2 separate regions of the Homo sapiens genome follow, and region 2 is linked to region 1. Evidence: fine-mapped expression QTL. Tissue or cell type: blood mononuclear cells. Region 1 holds a variant in brackets; the other region holds the start of a gene. All regions are shown on one strand. Distances are between the middles of the regions.

The links. PIP is the estimated chance that this variant, and not a neighbour inherited with it, causes the effect.
Region 2: DUS2 starts here. The variant in region 1 is fine-mapped to the expression of DUS2 in blood mononuclear cells (TOPMed, PIP 0.91).

Annotation. Positions count from the first base shown.
Region 1 is chr16:67,993,764-67,999,625 of GRCh38, reverse strand. It overlaps DPEP2 (dipeptidase 2), which reads left to right and starts at 142. Exons shown (of 11, transcript NM_022355.4): 1 at 142-251. RefSeq lists an enhancer at 1,203-1,719. The variant AAGAAAAAAAAT/T (reference allele first, on the strand shown) is at 3,257.
Region 2 is chr16:68,020,313-68,026,174 of GRCh38, reverse strand. DUS2 (dihydrouridine synthase 2) reads right to left here and starts at 2,891. Exons shown (of 17, transcript NM_017803.5): 1 at 2,824-2,891; 2 at 681-760. It overlaps DDX28 (DEAD-box helicase 28), which reads left to right and starts at 2,943. Exons shown (of 1, transcript NM_018380.4): 1 at 2,943-5,259. The coding sequence starts at 2,973. The coding sequence ends at 4,595. RefSeq lists enhancers at 2,791-3,030, 2,741-3,491, 3,492-4,242.

The DNA.
Region 1 (5,862 bases):
GAGGAACAGGCCAGGCATCGTGGGCTCACATGAACACTCATGCCCCAGAAGTAAACAAGTGTTAGCCAACCAGGAGGCCTATCCTCCCCCTAACCTCACCCAAAGCCATCTCTGTGCCCTCCCCCTTGCAGGGGAAACAGCACACACTAGTGAAATCTTGTCTTAGTGTGTCCGGAATTGGTGGGTTCTTGGTCTCACTGAGTTCTAGAATGAAGCTGCAGACCCTCGCAGTGAGTGTTACAGCTCTTAAGGTAGCGCGTCTGGAGTTTGTTTCTTTTGATGTTTGGATGTTTGGAGTTTCTTCCTTCTGGTGGGTTTGTGGTCTTGTTGGCTCAGGAGTGAAGCTGCAGACCTTCGTGGTGAGTGTTACAGCTTTTAAGGCAGTGCGTCTGGAGTCGTTTGTTCCTCCCAGTGGGCTTGTGGTCTCGCTGGCTTCAGGAGTGAAGCTGCAGACCTTCGCGGTGAGTGTTAAAGCTCATAAAAGCAGCATGGACCCAAAGAGTGAACAGTAGCAAGATTTACTGCAAAGAGCAAAAGAACAAAGCTTCCACAGTGTGGAAGGGGACCAGAACAGGTAGCCACTGCGGGCTCAGGCAGCCTGCTTTTATTCTCTTATCTGGCCCCACCCACATCCTGCTGATTGGTAGAGCCGAGTGGTCTGTTTTGACAGGGTGCTGATTGGTGCGTTTACAATCCCTGAGCTAGACACAAAGGTTCTCCACGTCGCCACCAGATTAGCTAAATACAGAGTGTCGACACAAAGGTTCTCCAAGGCCCCACCAGAGCAGCTAGATACAGAGTGTCAGTTGGTGCATTCACAAACTCTGAGCTAGACACAGGGTGCTGATTGGTGTGTTTACAAACCTTGAGCTAGATACTGAGTGCCGACTGGTGTATTTACAATCCTGAGCTAGACGTAAAGATTGTCCACGTCCCCACCAGACTCAGGAGCACAACTGGCTTCACCCAGTGGATCCCGCACCAGGGATGCAGGTGGAGCTGCCTGCCAGTCCTGCGCCATGCGCCCGCACTCCTCAGCCCTGTGGTGGTCGATGGGACTGGGCGCTGTGGAGCAGGGGGCGGCGCTCACCGGGGAGGCTCCGGCCGCACAGGAGCCCATGGAGGGGGTGGGAGGCTCAGGCATGGAGGGCTGCAGGTCCCGAGCCCTGCCCCCCCGGGAAGGCAGCTAAGGCCCGGTGAGAAGTCGAGCGCAGCGCCTGTGAGCTGGCACTGCTGGGGGACCCAGTACATCCTCCGCAGCCACTGGCCCGGGTGCCAAGCCCCTCATTGCCCGGGGCCAGCAGGGCCCGCGGGCCGCTCCGAGTGCGGGCCCGCCAAGCCCACGCCCACCCGAAACTCCAGCTGGCCCGCAAGCGCCGCTCGCAGCCCCGGTTCCCACTCGCGCCTCTCCCTCCACACCTCCCTGCAAGCTGAGGGAGCTGGCTCTGGCCTTGGCCAGCCCAGAAAGGGGCTCCTACAGTGCAGCGGTGGGCTGAAGAGCTCTTCAAGTGCCGCCAAAGTGGGAGCCCAGGCAGAGGAGGCCCCGAGAGCGAGCGAGGGCTGTGAGGACTGGCAGCACGCTGTCACCTCTCATTAGGAGCTGCCAATATCAGTGGCACAGACCTGAGCACAGGGATAATTTGGGGTCAGAGGCTACAGTCTAAGTTAGCTAGATGCTGGCAGTGGGCAGAGTGGAAACAAGGCAGAGGCGGGGAAACTCAGGGCCTGACTCCAGAGCCGACCTTAAGTGTCACCGCTGATTCCTCCTTACTGTCTCCCACCAACCCTGCTTCAAAGCATCTCCAAATCCTGGGTTCAACTTCCAAACATGTCCCAGGAATGTCTCCTTCCTGTTCCCACTGCTTCTCCCCCTTACAGGCCCCTTCATTCCTTACCCCTCCTGATCTCCTGGCCTCCAGCCCATTCCCTACAGAAAAGCCATACCTATTTCTTCCATTTTAAAAAATGTGAGCTGGGCGCGGTGGCTCATGCCTGTAATCCTAGCACTTTGGGAGGCCAAGGTGAGTGGATCACGAGGTCGGGAGATCAAGACCATCCTGGCTAACACGGTGAAACCCCGTCTCTACTAAAAATACAAAAAATTAGCCGGGCGTGTTGGCGGGCACCTATAGTCCCAGCTACTCGGGAGGCTGCGGCAGGAGAATGGCCTGAACCCGGGAGGCGGAGCTTGCAGTGAGCCGAGATTGTGCCACTGCACTCCAGCCTGGGCGACAGAGCGAGATTCCATCTCAAAATAAATAAACAAATAAATATAAAAATAAAAAATTTGGCCAAGGGTCGGGGGTGGCTCATGCCTGTAATCCCAGCACTTTGGGAGGTCAAGGCAGGCGGATCACCTGAGGTCAGGAGTTCGAGACCAGCCTGGCCAACATGGCAAAACCCCATCTCTACTAAAAATACAAAAATTAGCCGGGAGTGGTGGCATGCGCCCGTAATCTCAGCTACTCGGGAGGCTGAGGCAGGAGAATCACTTGAACCCAGGAGGCAGAGATTGCAGTGAGCCAAGATTGCACCATTGCACTCCAGCCTGGGCAACAAGAATGAAACTCTGTCTCAGAAAATAATAATAATAATAATAATAATAATAATAATAATAATAATAATATCATTATCTATTTTTTTACAGACAGGGTCTTGCCCTGTCACCCAGGCTGGAATGCTATGGTGTTATCATAATGCTCACTGCAACTACAAGTGTGGGTGTGTCTGTGATTCGCTTTGTATGGTCCCCTCAAGGCCACATTTGAGGACTGAAGTTGCATATCATGGAAAATTGTGTTGTCTGGCTTATCTCCTACAGAGACAGTGCTCACTTTTACTGGCTCAACTCAGCCTGCCTCTGCTGAGCTAGCAGGTACCCCAAGTCCCAGGAGGTCAGACATTCGGGCTCTGGAGAGAAGCTTAAAAAAAAATGCAAAAAGTTGGCCGAGTGCGGTCGCTCACACCTATAATCCCAGCGCTTTGGGAGGCCGTGGTGGGTGGATTACCTGAGGTCAGGAGTTCAAGACCAGCCTGAACAAAATGGAGAAACCCCATCTCTACTAAAAAATACAAAATTAGCCAGGTGTGGTGGCACATGCCTGTAATTCCAGTGACTTGGGAGGCTGAGGCAGGAGAATCACTTGAACCCAGGAGGTGGAGGTTGCAGTGAGCCAAGATCACATCATTGCCCGCCAAGATCACATCATTGCCCTCCAGCCTGGGCAACAGGAGCAAAACTTTGTCTCAAAAAAAA[AAGAAAAAAAAT/T]TCAAAAAGTTGAATTCTCCTCACCTACTCTGTCAGCTGTTATTTATTTATTCCTACCTACCCCTTCCTTATTTTTACATTTTTCAAACTGACAAATAATAATTGACCAGCCTGGGCAATATAGTGAGACCCTGTCTCTAAAAAAAAAAAAAAAAATAGCCGAGTGTGGTGGCGAGTACCTGTAGTCCCAGACTCGGGAGGCTGAAGTGGGAGGATTGATTGAACCTGAGAGGTTAAGGCTGCAGTGAGCTGAGACTGCACCACTGCAGTCCAGCCTGGGTGACAGAGCAAGACCTTATCTCAAAAACAATAATAATAATAATTTGCACATATTCATGGGGTACATAGTGATTTTTGTTGTTGTTGTTGTTGTTGTTGTTGTTGTTTGGCGGGGGGAGACAGGGTCTCGCTCTGTCATCCAGGCTGAAGTTCAGTGGCCCAATCTCGGCTCACTGCAACCTCTGCCTCCTGGGTTGAAACGATTCTCCCAACTCAGCCTCCCAGGTATTTGGGACTACAGGCGCGCACCACCAAGCCCGGCTAATGTTTGTATTTTTAATAGAGATGGGGTTTCCCCATGTTGGCCAAGCTGGTCTCGAACTCCTGACCTCAGATGATCCACCCACCTCGGCCTCCCAAAGTGCTGGGATCACGGGTGTGAGTCACTGCGCCCCACCCATAGTGATGTTTCAATACATATAACACATAATGATCAGGTTCAGTTCCTCATTCTTTATGCCCCTTACCTCTTGGGGCTCTCAGAATAAACTGTTTATCCCCAAAACCACATCTTTGACCTGGAGACCAGCAAATCCAAGAGCTTCTCCTCCCTCTCACTATTCCAGTGGGTGTGGGGAGCTGCTGACCAGCAGTGGATGATGGAGAGAAGGAGGGAAGCCTGTGTTGGGGTACCCAAACCACCCAGATCTGGGACACGCCCTACTGTTCTCTGAAGCAGAGCCCAAGAGGACTCACCATCTGCAGTGGGCCTCCCTATAGAACCCTCCAGCAGGGCTGGGCACAGTGGCTCACATCTATACTCCCAGCACTTTGGGAGGCCAAGGTGAGATCATCACTTGAAGCCAGAAGTTTGAGACCAGCCTGGGCAAGAAGGCAAGACAGTCTTTAATTAAAAAAATAAATAAAAAATAAAAAAAAAGCCCAGGTGCGGTAGCTCACTCCAGTAATCCCAGCATTTTGGGAGGCTGAGGCAGGCAGATTGCTTGAGACCAGGAGTTCGAGACCAGCCTGGGCAACATGGCAAAACCCCATCTCTACTAAACAACAAAATTTAGCCGGGCGTGGTGGCGCATGCCTGTAGTCCCAGCTACTCGGGAAGTTAAGGCACAAGAATCGCTTGAACCCAGGAGGTGGAGATTGCAGTGAGCCAAGATTGTGCCACTACCCTCTAGCCTGGGCAACAAAGTGAGACTCTGTCTCAAAACAAACAAAAAAAGACCCCCTTCGGCAGCAGTAGACGTGACAGTTAACCCACCTCGAGCACTCGGCCATCGATCTGCCTTCCTCCTGGACAGCAGACACTGGGCAACATCAAGTGTGCAGTCCCTAAAATACATCAAAGCTGGGATCACTTCCCCTCCTGGGTAGCTTGGGACCTCCAGTCCCTTTGGAAGAGTTGGTTCATTTTCTTTTTAGGAGGCCTTCTTGAATCTCTAGTCGTCGTCAGGCTTAGGTCACACTACCCATGCACTGATCAGCCCTGCCACGTGGGGGAGGCTCCAAAAAATGAAGCGGTTCCAGGGGTGCCAAGGTTCAGAGCAGAGTCTTGAGAGCCTGAGGGGCAGGAGGAGGCAAAGGTCTCTGAGGACGAAGGGGTTTGGCCACAGTCCCGGAAGATCTCAGGTCGTGGGGCTTCTGTGAGCGGGCACATCCCCTGTGCCTGTGTGATTGTGAGCTTGTGTGCTTGTGTGGTTGGGGGTCCTTCCTGGAGGAGGCATCTAGGTTGAGGGCCCCAGGCCGGGAATGGGGTGGGGCCTGTCGTCAAGGAAGGGACTCAGCCCTGGAGGTTTCTGTGAGAGCTCAAGCCACAGGAGCCACAAGATAAGAGGAGTGTGGCTGCAGAACCCAGGTGGCAGGGCTTTCCTCAGGCCCCTTACTCCTGACCTGGACGAGGCCGGGGCTTCCTCAAGGAGGTAGGAGGTATCCTGGCCAGCAGATCAGCCAGAAGCTCTAGGAGGAAGGTGCTGCGGCCGGGGACTCTGCTGCCCTAGACAAGACTTCATTTCCTTCCATGCAGATGGCTGTGTGGGTTCCTGCTCTGTTGAGTGAATGTTCCCTGGCAGTGGCCAGATGCTTGCTGCGCTCTCATCCCTCCACTGGGGTCCTGGGGAGGTGTGGCAGCTCCTTAGGAAGGAGCTCTTTCCTAAGGCTGATTGGAGAATGTGCGGTCGGGGCGGGGGGCGGAGGAGTGCTCCTGACAGGTCCTAGTAGCTGGGAGATTCCCCAGAGTATAGGCTTGAGGGCCTAAGTTACGGGAGAGAGAAGGTCAGGGCCAGGGGGCCCCTTCCTGAATCCAGTCCACAGGGTTAACCCCTCATTTCCAGAGCCTATCTTCTCCCCCACACCCACCCACAC
Region 2 (5,862 bases), 27 kb before region 1:
TACTAAAAATACAGAAATTAGCCGGGTTTGGTAGCACGTGCCTGTAATCCCACCTACTGGGGTGGCTGAGGCAGAAGAATCACTTGAACCTGGGAGGCAGAGGTTACAGTGAGTCGAGATGGCACCACTGAAGTCTAGCCTGGGTGACAGAGCAAGACCTTGTCTAGGCCTTAACCCAAATCAATTAAATCAGAATGTAAACTCCACAAGGGCAGGGATTTTGGCTGTTTTCCTCACTACCAATGCCTGGCACATGCGTGGTGCTCAGGAAGTATTTGTTGAATGAATGATTGAATGAATGAATGAATATACCATTATTAACTGAGATCCAAGGAACACACCAAGCTCCTGATCTCAGGAGCTTAGATTTTTTTTCACAATAAGGATACCTTTCCTATTTCTAAAGCACTACTTATAAAAATATCTCAGAAAACATTTAGAAGTTAATCAATGTCCTCTGTGAGTGAGGGGGAAAAAAGGTAGGCAGTGTCTAGTGATGTGACAAGAAGAAATTAGTGGCCACGGACACAGACAGGCTTAGGCAAGCTCTAACTCCTGTGAAATTTTGAGGTAATCATATTGTAAGGACTCAAGCATAATGAGAAAACAACTATATATTAACCAGCTACCCTACCCTGGATATTTGAACAAAACCCAAAAACCCAAATGCATATACATACCTATTATTTTGTTCTGATACTTCAGGATTACTTTGATATATGTGTTCTGGCTTTGTACAGAGTAATTCTTTGTTTGATATCTGAAAAACAGTGGCACATGGAAATGGATGAAACCTGTTGGGACAAACATCCAAGGGACCTTTTTTTTTTTTTTTTGAGACAGAGTCTCGCCCTGTCGCCCAGGCTGGAGTGCAATGGTGCGATCTCGGCTCACTGCAACAACCTCCGCCTCCCGGGTTCAAACGATTATCCTGCCTCAGCCTCCCGAGTAGCTGGGATTACAGGCATGAGCCTGGCCCCAAGGAACTATTTGGATAAGGAGAAGCCCTGAGTTTGGAAAGAATCATAAAAGTAGCATAGAATTGGGCCGGGCACAGCGGCTCACACCTGTAATCTCAGCACTTTGGGAGACCAAGGTGGGCAAATCATGAGGTCAGGAGTTTGAGACCAGCCTGCCCAACGTAGTGAAACCCTGTCTCTATTAAAAATACAAAAATTAGCTGGGAGTGGTAGCGCACACCTCTAATCCCAGCTACTCAGATGGCTGATGCAGGAGAATCCCTTGAACCCAGAAGGCAGAGACTGCAGTGAGCTGACATCGCACCACTGTACTCCAGCCTGGGCAACACAGTGAGACTGTCTATAAAAAAAAAAAAAAAAAAAGTATCCAGCCATTGTCAAATATGGTGGGAGGGAAAGGGCAAAATCACCCTTGTTTTAGAACCACTACCCTATCCAATGACTGTTCATTCACCCATCACTACTCAAAACTTTCTCTTCCTACTTCCAGATATTTTCTTGTGGAGAAAAAAAGCCTCTCTTCCTCTGATTTATCTGGTAACTCTCCAGAAAGTCTAATTGTGTAGCACAAGGGTAGAGTGTACTTAAAATTGTGAAAGTTTTTCCTCATACTATTCCAAAAAAAGCAAAGTTTTTATCTTTTCATTGGTATTTGATGAAACTAAAACGTTTTCTCCAGATGTTACGAACCTCCCAGAGAGTTAATCCATAAATATTTACCTTATCTCCCACCCCAGGCACTGCAAATTACAGAAAAGATCTGACACCCATTTTCCAGATCTGTTCAAGAAGTATCTGTTGGGCATGGTGGCTCACGCTTATAATCCCATCACTTTGGGAGGCCGAGGTGGGAAGATCGCTTGAGGCCAGGAGTTCGAGACCAGCCAGGCCTACATAGTGAAACCCTGTCTCTACTAAAAACAGAAAAAATTAGCCGGGCGTGGGTGGTGTACGGCTGTAGTCTCAGCTACTTGGGAGGCAGAGGCAGGAGAATCACCTGAACCCAGGAGGTGGAGGTTGCAGTGAGCCGAGATTGCGCCACTGCACTCCAGCCTGGGTGACAGAACGAGACTGTGTCTCAGAAAAAAAAAAAAAAAAAGTGACTCGTATAGTTCTTGTTTTTACAACCCGAATATCTGAATTCAGGTAAAATATTCTGCCTGACCAGGGCTACATGATAAGCCACGTACTTGATCACTTTGTAGGGTCGCAGCACCCTTCTTACTACTATTTTAGGTAATTCAGGTTTCTGACGGGGAAGCCAGTGGAGCTGAGCGGGCTGCAAGAGGGGTGGGTTCTGGATGAGAAGTTGGGACGCGTGACGAGGGAGTAGAGAGTGAACCTTGGCTTAAAAGGAAGGAAAATAACTGTGAAGAAAAGATGACCCAACTTGAAATAAAACCTGAAGACCTTATCTCCCACTTGAGAGAGAGAAGAAGCTGAAAGCCATCAGCTTGCACTCTGGGCTCACAGACAGAGAGGGTGAGGGGTTGAGCCCAGATCTATGACTTCAGACCCCTGTCTCGGCCCCTAGGCCTGATCATTCATTCAAACTCTCAATAAACACGGATTACCAGACCCTGCGCAGGGAACACATCTGGGAAAACAGCTGCAACCTCGGATACCAGCACGGGACAAGCTATCTCAGGGCAATGAGGAACAACTAAAGAGAATCCCAGGAACCAGGTAACCAATCGCCAGAAGCCCTCCGCCCTCATGGTCCATTGGGTCAAGGCCCCACTGCCGCCTCGTATCGCCAGCCTCCAGTCCTGCCTCCACGACGCGCCCTTCCCCAAGGCTGGCCGGGTCTGGATGTCGCCATCCCCTATTCGGAGCTACAGACCTCGCAGCTGAACTCTTAAAAAGAACCTCGCTTCTTCCTCACGGTGCTCCAGCTCCACACACCGTACTGAGCCTCGCCAGCCACCGTACGCGAGGTCGCGGCGCGTCCGTGACGTCACTGATGTGCGCTTCTCCCGCACTAAGGGAAACATGGCTCTAACGCGGCCGGTGCGGCTCTTTTCCCTCGTGACTCGGTTGCTCCTGGCGCCGCGACGGGGCCTCACGGTCCGCAGTCCCGACGAACCCCTGCCGGTGGTGCGCATCCCAGTGGCTCTACAGCGGCAGTTGGAACAGCGGCAGAGCAGGCGGCGGAACCTCCCGAGGCCGGTGCTGGTTCGACCCGGACCGCTGCTGGTTTCGGCGCGGCGGCCGGAGTTGAACCAGCCGGCGCGCCTCACACTGGGCCGTTGGGAGCGCGCGCCGCTAGCCTCTCAAGGCTGGAAGAGTCGACGCGCGCGTCGGGACCACTTCTCCATCGAGCGCGCGCAACAGGAGGCGCCAGCGGTGCGAAAGCTCTCGTCTAAGGGCAGCTTTGCTGACCTGGGCCTGGAGCCCCGTGTGCTGCACGCACTACAGGAGGCTGCGCCTGAAGTCGTTCAGCCCACAACCGTGCAGTCTAGCACCATCCCCTCACTACTTCGCGGCCGCCATGTCGTTTGCGCCGCAGAAACCGGCAGTGGCAAGACTCTCAGCTACCTCCTGCCGCTGCTTCAACGGCTCTTGGGCCAGCCAAGCCTGGACTCCCTTCCTATCCCCGCGCCCCGAGGCCTGGTCCTTGTTCCTTCCCGAGAATTGGCCCAACAGGTGCGGGCTGTGGCCCAACCCTTGGGCCGCTCCTTGGGCCTGCTGGTGCGGGACCTGGAGGGAGGCCACGGCATGCGTAGGATCAGGCTGCAGCTGTCCAGACAGCCTTCAGCAGATGTGCTTGTGGCCACTCCAGGGGCTCTGTGGAAGGCCCTGAAAAGTCGACTGATCAGTCTGGAGCAACTCTCCTTCTTGGTGTTGGATGAGGCAGACACACTGCTGGATGAAAGCTTCCTGGAACTGGTGGACTACATCTTAGAGAAGAGCCACATAGCAGAAGGCCCAGCTGACTTGGAAGACCCCTTCAATCCCAAAGCTCAGTTAGTGCTGGTAGGAGCCACATTTCCCGAAGGTGTAGGCCAGTTGCTGAATAAAGTCGCCAGCCCAGATGCTGTCACCACCATCACCAGCTCCAAGCTCCACTGTATCATGCCTCATGTGAAACAGACATTTCTGAGACTGAAGGGAGCAGATAAGGTGGCCGAGCTGGTGCACATCCTCAAGCATCGTGACAGAGCAGAAAGGACTGGTCCCTCAGGAACTGTTCTGGTGTTCTGTAATAGCTCCAGCACTGTGAACTGGCTGGGATATATTCTGGATGACCACAAAATCCAACACCTAAGGTTGCAGGGGCAAATGCCAGCCTTGATGAGGGTAGGAATCTTCCAGTCCTTCCAGAAGAGCTCCCGAGACATACTTCTCTGCACAGACATAGCCTCTCGGGGCCTGGACAGCACTGGTGTGGAGCTGGTTGTCAATTATGATTTCCCCCCAACGCTGCAAGATTACATCCACAGAGCAGGGAGAGTGGGCCGTGTGGGGAGCGAGGTGCCAGGCACCGTCATCAGTTTTGTGACCCATCCCTGGGATGTGAGCCTGGTTCAGAAGATTGAGCTGGCGGCTCGCCGAAGGAGAAGTCTTCCAGGACTAGCATCCTCGGTGAAAGAGCCTTTGCCCCAAGCAACCTGATTTTGACAAATCTGATTAAAATGTGATGCTAGAACAGGGATCTTTCCCAGTATCTTGAGTGGGTGACCACACTTGTCAGTGGGAGGCTCTGGGCTGCCCTGTCGGCTCCTTGAGGGCGGGATGAACTGCTTTGTGACTTGGAAAGGTACGCTGCTGGCCAGCATTGGAGAAGAAGCTGCTGAGCATGGCTTTCTGTAGTCTTTAGCAAGACACAAGTGGATTTTGACTTTGTATCATGTCATGATTTCTAACAATAAATGATGTTTTTATGTGCCTCCCCTAAGAATAATTAGCACCGGGGCGGAATTCAGTAGTTTCTGAGGATTCATACACCAAACCTCCACATCTAGGACAAAGGCTCTTTCAGTTGATGTTTTCATTTATAAACATTTAGTTTGTATTTCCTGCCCCCAAAAAGGTATCCATTAAGCCCCCAGGGAAAGGAAAGGAAAGGAAATGTGACTAGCAGTAGACAGAGTTACTCTCTAACAATGCCCAAGACAAACGGGCGTCTTGGCGAAATCTCTGGAAGGTACTGGCAGAAAAGTAAAGGGTAGACGAACACAGAAGTTTTGCTTGTACATTTTCAGGTTCTGCCTTCTATCCCAACTCGGTAGCCGAGAAAGAGGAGAGATGATTAAACGGTTTTACAAAACTGGAAAAATAACCATATAGCATTTTCTTTATATATATATATACGTATATATATATATATATATATATATATACATACGTATATATATATATACACATACATATATATACGTATATATATATATGTATATATATATATACGTGTATATATATATACGTGTATATATATATGTGTATATATATATATACACAAAAAAAAATTACAAAAATCAACCCGGCGTGGTGGCACGCGCCTGTAGTCCCAGCTACTCGGGAGGCTGAGGCAGGAGAATCACTTGAACCTGGGAGGCGGAGGTTGCAGTGAGCCAAGATCATACCACTACACTCCAGCCTAGGGGACAGAGCAAGACTCCATCTCAAAAAAAAAAAAAAAAAAAAGCCGGGTGTGGTGGCTCACGCCTGTAATGCCAGCACTTTGGGAGGCTGAGGCAGGAGGATCACCTGAGGTCAGGAGTTTAAGACCAGCCTGGTAAACATGCGAAACCCCATCTCTATTAAAAATACAAAAAAATTAGCTGAATGTGGTGGTGCACGCCTGTAATCCCAAATACTTGGGAGGCTGAGGCACAAGAATGGCTTGAATTCTGGAGGCGAAGGTTTCAGTGAGCCAAAA